Homo sapiens: one gene and its partner. The protein of the gene in region 2 binds, or shares a complex with, the protein of the main gene of each other region. Each region holds a gene or a part of one and is shown on either strand. Other genes may lie near its edges.

What was found. Proteins that work in one complex are often made in the same cells at the same time.
Region 1: DPM1 (region 2) and DPM3 share a complex: the UniProt entries of both Homo sapiens proteins name them as parts of the dolichol-phosphate mannose (DPM) synthase complex.

Annotation. Positions count from the first base shown.
Region 1 is NC_000001.11:155,139,329-155,142,154, forward strand, and holds DPM3 (dolichol-phosphate mannosyltransferase subunit 3), read right to left. Parts: upstream 1,204-2,826; 5' UTR 1,163-1,203; intron 1,080-1,162; exon of another isoform or gene 1,003-1,079; coding exon of another isoform or gene 913-1,002; coding exon 634-912; 3' UTR 563-633; downstream 1-562. UniProt on the Homo sapiens protein: Stabilizer subunit of the dolichol-phosphate mannose (DPM) synthase complex; tethers catalytic subunit DPM1 to the endoplasmic reticulum.
Region 2 is NC_000020.11:50,951,903-50,955,655, reverse strand, and holds part of DPM1 (dolichol-phosphate mannosyltransferase subunit 1), read left to right. Parts: intron 1-370; coding exon 371-470; intron 471-3,753. UniProt on the Homo sapiens protein: Transfers mannose from GDP-mannose to dolichol monophosphate to form dolichol phosphate mannose (Dol-P-Man) which is the mannosyl donor in pathways leading to N-glycosylation, glycosyl phosphatidylinositol membrane anchoring, and O-mannosylation of proteins; catalytic subunit of the dolichol-phosphate mannose (DPM) synthase complex.

The DNA of each region.
Region 1 (2,826 bases), on a different chromosome or scaffold from region 2:
AGACCCTGTCTCAAAAAAAAAAAAAAAAAGAAGTAGTACGCCGGGCGCGGTGACTCACACCTGTAATCCCAGCACTTTGGGAGGCCGAGGCGGGCGGATTACGAGGTCAGGAGATCAGACCATCCTGGCCAACACGGTGAAACCCCGACTCTACTAAAAATACAAAAAATTAGCCAGGCGTGGTGGCAGGCGCCTGTAGTCCCAGCTACTCAGGAGGCTGAGGCAGGAGAATGGCGTGAACCCGGGAGGCGGAGCTTGCAGTGAGCCGAGATCACGCCACTGCACTCCAGCCTGGACGACAGAGCAAGGCTCCGTCTCAAAAAAAAAAAAAAAGAAGTACTTCCTACAGGGTTGAAAGGACCAGGAAAGTGAAATGTCATTTCCATCCTGAGAAATATTGAGAAGGGGTCTTTGCCTCCTTGGGAGCAAAAATGGGAACACCAGCAAGATGCAAAGATAAAGGCTGAGATGGCCTCAAGAAGGTGGTTCTTTCACATTCACTTCTCGACCGTTAGTACATAGAATCCCCAATACCCGTTTTCCATACTCAAACTAAACGAAGTTAGAAAATAAACTGGCTCTTTAATGGGAAATGGGAGGAAGGGCTGTCCGCACAGGAATGGGGTTAGGCTGTCAGAAGCGCAGCCCCCTGCGGGCTAAGTCGGCTCGGGCCTCCTGTATCTGGCTCTGCAGCTCGCGTGCGGCGTCCTCGCAGTCATGAAAAGTGGCCACACGATAGCCCACAGTGCCCAGGGCATAGCAGCCGGCGGACACCAGCAAGTAGGCGGGCAGTGGCCACAGGACTTCCTGGCAGGACAAGGGCAGCTCCAGGCCCAAGGCTCCCGTGGTCAGGGCCACCCAGGTGGAGCCCAGGATCGCTAGTCCCCAAAGCCACTGCGCTAATTTCGTCATGGTCACTGCGAGAGAAGGAAGCAATGCTCCCCTGAGGAGCAGAAAGGAAAAGCGGACCAAACTCAACCGAAGCCCGCCCACGGAGAGCATTAAAACCAGCCCTGGCCAGAGGGGAATCGCCGATCCCAGAGGTCCGAACTTGAGTGCCCACAAAAGGTGGAAGGGCCCCTTCCACCTTGCTACCCCCTCTATATTTGAGACCCACTCCCCATCTCTCGCCCTCCCCATTCAGCCTTCAACCTACACTTACCTCTACCCCACGTCTCCCCTTCCCCGCGCGGCCCGGATGTTGGCGTCCGGAAGTCCTCCCTGGTTCACGTTCCGCTTCCGCGCGGCCTTCTGGGAGTTGTAGTTCACATGGCGGCGCCTGGTGTACTCCTGGCCAGCGCCTCAATCTAGGCGGGGGTACAGTGGGCTGTGCTCCGCAAACGGGGAGCAGGCCGGGTCTGGAGAGGCCTCGGCGCTGCTTTCCCACCTTGGGCTACGCTCCAGGCTGGCGTGGGGCTTGAGGACATCCTTAAATGTTGCAACAAGATGGGAATATAATACCATTCCCCTTAAACTCAATTCTCCAGCGCTGAAATCCATTCCTTCATTCACTAGTTCATTCATTCGAAGATTTCTTTCTTTCCATTCTTGACAGGGTCTCTCTATAGTGCCTAGGCGGGACAGAACTCCTTTTTTTTTTTTTTTTTTTTTTTTTTTTTTTTGAGACAAAGTCTCGCTCTGTTGCCCATGCTGGAGTACAGTGGCTCGATCTCAGCTCACTGCAACCTCTGTCTCCCGAGCAGCTGGGATTACAGGCGCGCGCCACCACGCCGGGCTAATTTTTTTATTTTTAGCAGAGAACGGGGATTTCACTATGTTGGCCAGGCTGGTCTCAAACTCCTGACCTCAAGTGACTGGCCCACCTCAGCCTTCCAAAGTGCTAGGATTACAGGCATGAGCCACAGCGCCCGGCCAGAACATTTCTTGATTACCATGATAGACTTTGGAGATACAGAGATGTCAAGAGACTCGACCCCTTTCAGGTGGAGGGGGAAAGCAGGAGTCAGTGAAGCAGTTGCATTGACAACTAACCATGAAGGCTTGAGATTATTGTTAGAACAGAGGTAGTCATATTTTTACAAGGACAACAACCAATATAACTTGGAGCCAGAGGAAGAAGGGCTCCAGGAGTCTGGGTTTCAAAAAAAAAGAAAAGAAAAGAAAGACCAGAAGAATTACCTGAAGTGGTGAAGGCATTGAAAGAAAGAGTATAATTCTTTAGAACAGTTTTGGGGATGAATTTATTATGTATAGAGAGAAAGAGAGAGAGAGAACAAAGTAAGAGAAAAGGTTAGGCAATTATCAACTTCAGAGGAAACAAAGAGTTATATAAGAAAGGAAAGACAATTGATAAGCCTGTCTTATAAAGACCACATCTGTAGTTTGACAGTTAGGTTTATTAACTTGCCACAACAGAGAGATCACACACTAGAAGAACTGTGGGGCAACTCATTAAAAAGGAAGAAATATGGTCATTCAGATGATATGGTTTGGCTGTGTCCCCACCCAAATTTCAAGTTGATGTGTATCTCCCAGAATTCCCACGTGCGAGGGACCTAAGGGGAGGTAATTGAATCACGGGGGCCAGACTTTCCCGTGCTATTTTCATGATAGTGAATAAGTCTCACAAGATCTGATGAGTTCATCAGGGGTTTCTGCTTTTGCTTCTTCCTCATTTTTCTCTTGCCACCGCCATGTAAGAAGTGCCTTTGTCTCCCGCCATGATTCTGAGGCCTCCCCAGCAATGTGGAACTGTAAGTCCAATTAAACCTCTTTTTGTTTGCAGTTTCGGGTATGTCTTTATCAGTAATGTGAAAATGAACTAATACAACAGGATATGGGAAAGGCTTGACTTTAAAATTTATA
Region 2 (3,753 bases):
GGAGGCAGAGGTAAGCCGAGACTGCGCCACTGCATTCCAGCCTGGCAACAGAGCAAGACTCCATCTCAAAACAAAAAAAATTCATATGATACATAGGTCATTACGTGATTTTCTTTTGAACTAAAAAGTTTGTTCTCTGTGTAGGAATTCTTTAATATCTCAGGACATTAGCATGTTTCAGCAACATACTGGGTTTGGAGGTAAAGTACTAAATGTTTGACATTTATTTCATTTGATAATTGAAGTTTTCCTCAACGATTAATATAGCAATACATCTCCATTTATACTTTTAAGGAATTAGTAATTTTTAAATTACTTTTAAATTTGAGAACACTGTCATCAGTCATTAATACAAATTTAATTTTTTTAGTGGAATCAACTATGAAATTATAATCATAGATGATGGAAGCCCAGATGGAACAAGGGATGTTGCTGAACAGTTGGAGAAGATCTATGGGTCAGACAGAATTGTAAGTTATAAGAACATTTTTCTGTGATATGAATTGTGATTATGTAGGGGAAAGATGAGACATGAACAATGCTTAAATTCAATCTATTTGTTTAGAAACTGAAAAGATAAAGAGCAACTTACGCATTTGGGATTTAAATGCATTTTTGTTGTCCGTAAAATTTTACATATCTTTGGTATGTTGGGTCAGTGGTCATTTTACAGCAAAGAGTGAGCTTTTGGATGAACTCTGTTTATAACTAATTCTGCAGATAAATTTTCTTGAAGGGCAAAAATTAAAGCATGATACTGAATTGACAAGGAATATTATATAATTGGGTTATAATTGGTAGTGTGTGTGTGTCTTAATCTTTCTTGCTCCCTTTCGGTAAGTATTCTCATGCTTTCATTAGAGAATACTGCCTGAAATTAAGAGCGTGTAGGTAGAAAAAGTTACTGTTTTCTTGTGAAACATTAATGACTTCTTAGAGTACTTGGCATTTTTAGTCTATAGAATAGTCTTGTGAAAGTAGATTGACTGTATTAGTCCTAAACTTTAGATTCACCCACTGTACCTTGAAACTTGTTATTCTAATATAGAAGTTACTTAGGCAAATATAGAGTTTATTTTATAATGGCTTCATGAATTTTATTTTTGGTTACCGGTTTGTATTTACAAATGTTTATGTATACTCGAGCTCTTTTATAATTTATATTCACAAATTATTGCAGACCACAGTTTTTCAGTCTTGGCACTATTGACGTGTGGACAGATTAATTCTTTACTGTGGGGGTTGTCGTGTTTATTGTAGGATGTTCAGCACCGCATCTGGACTCTTCTCACTAGATGCCACTAGAAACCCCCCTCCCCACTTGGCAACTGCAAATGTTTGGATATTGTGAGATATTTCCTTAGGGGAAAAATTACCCTTTGCCTCCAGTAGAGAACCATTGGTATAGAGAAAGAAGTCCCTTTGAGAACCTTTATTGTTATTTACAGTTCAAGAAATGGTAAATTAATCATTTTAAAAAAAAGCCACTCAGTCTAAATATTCTTGATAAATCTCAGTAATAGAAATACTTTCTACTTAGAGGTGAGTGTCAGTTGTATGAGGTCTTGGTGGCAAGAGTTTAAAGGAACTGTGTTACTACATGGTAAATGTAGTTCTAGGAATTCTTTCAGTCTGTCTCACAGATGAGTAACTCAGGTCTGTCACACCTCAAGTCTTCTCTGAAAACCTTCTAATGGATGGGAATACAGAAAGAGGTAAAAAGTTGACAAATTTTCAGGCTTCTAGCAGAGACTTTCAGTAATGCTAGGTTTGAATTTTTGGCCAGTAGTTCCCTGTTTTCTTTAGAAGCCCAGGGTGAAGGCCACTGATTCACAACACTTTTGAGTTATGTGCTGCCATTTAATCTCGGACCATCAACCAGACAACATTTTGAATACTTTTGTCATAAAACCTCAGCCTTAGGATGTGATTGATTGATTTTAGGGAATGGTTACTAAACTGACCTTTCAAATTTTGGAACAACATTGTCTTCAAAGACATTTTTTCTATCAACCCAATAAAATTCAAAATGAGAAAAAAAGTTGCATTCACTGTTACGATTTCCCTCTACTACCAGATAAAATTCCTTATTCATTCATTATTTTATGACATTTAAATAAGTTAAACTAGAAAATGACTTTTAAAAAAAAACAGTATTAATCCATGCTAGGGATGACACTTGCTTTTAGTGACAGATGTATGTTTCGTTGAGAAAATGAAGGATATTGAAACCATGTTAGAATACCTCAGATAAAGTGTTCACCACAGATGCTTTGTCAGCCTTTCAGACTGGCTGAAATGAATCTTTCAGAAAAGAAGCCAAAGAAGATATTTTTAAAAATTCTGTAGGTGACACAACTGAAGCGAGAGGTTAGGTCATTTTTAATGACCTAACTAGGTAGGACCATAGAGAAATTGGGGGCACTTACTCTGAACTATTCACAGTGCTTACAAGGCAGAGATCTGAAATTGTGAAGGACTTCAACTGCTCTGTGTTGAATGCTTTTATTATGTTTGGTTTATGTAGTTTGTTTCATCTCCCAACTTGAGATCAGATAAAGTCATTTATATTTTGTCATATTTTCTTCCAGCTTTATTGAGGTATAATTGACAAAGTTATATATATTTAAAGTATGAATACCACATTTGGGGAATGAACCTGTCCATCACCTCACGTAGTTACCCTTGGGGGCAAGTTGACAGTGATGAGGACAGTTAAGATCTGCTCTCTGTAAATTTCAACTATATAATATGATACTATTAACTATAGTCACCGTGCTGTGTGGTAGATTCTTAGAACTTTGTCTTACATTTTGTCATTATTTTATAGTTTAGTATTTTAAAAACTTACTCTGATAATAAAATGTAACACGTTTATTATTCTTAAAACATCAAATGTAAGATAAAAAGGTTTGACTACTTGAAAATATTAAACTTCTGTCCATTCCTAAATACCAAAATATTTCTAACAAGATCAGTACCCCAACCAACCAGATAATTCATAAGACCAAAACTAGAAATGGCCAGTAAACAAGAAAAAAATACTGAGCCTCACTGATAAGTGAAGATTTACAAAACAGGAGGAGAGTACATATTAGCCTTATTAGCTGAAGATTTATTTTTATTTTCTCCTTTCTTTTTAACCCAGTGTTTCTGAGAGTATTATAGAACAAGTCCACTCAAATACTGTTGATCCTAGTATAAATTGATACTGTTTTTCTGAAGTATCATCTGGCAGTAATCTCATGACCCTCAAAAATCCTTAATGCCTTTGTAATAAGTATAAAGCAGTTTATAAAACTGTATATGTACTATAGTCTCAATTCTGTTTTTAAGTAACTTTTTTCAAGATTGTCTGTGATAAGTTTTACAAAGGTTCTTGTCAAACAAATTATAGTTTCCCATAAAAGTATTTTATAAGCAGCTGTGGCAAACATGCTTCAAAAAGTATATGCCTGTCATTCTTGCAAGCACTTTATGTGAATCCACTTGCTTGTTCCTCATGAAAGCCAAGTGAGAGGGGGCTTTGTCACGCCTCTTTATATTCTCAAGATCACATGGCAAATGAGTAGTGGCCAGGATTCAAACCCAGGCATTGTGGTTCCAGGGTTCATCTTCCTGTCTGTAATGCTATCCTGCCTCACATAGAAAGGGGCCATCAGATTGATATGAAGAGGCAAAAAAGGATCAGGGGAGGGTGGAGAGGTGGAATTAAGAGTCTGAAAGTAAAGCATACCAAATAGAAATAGTTTG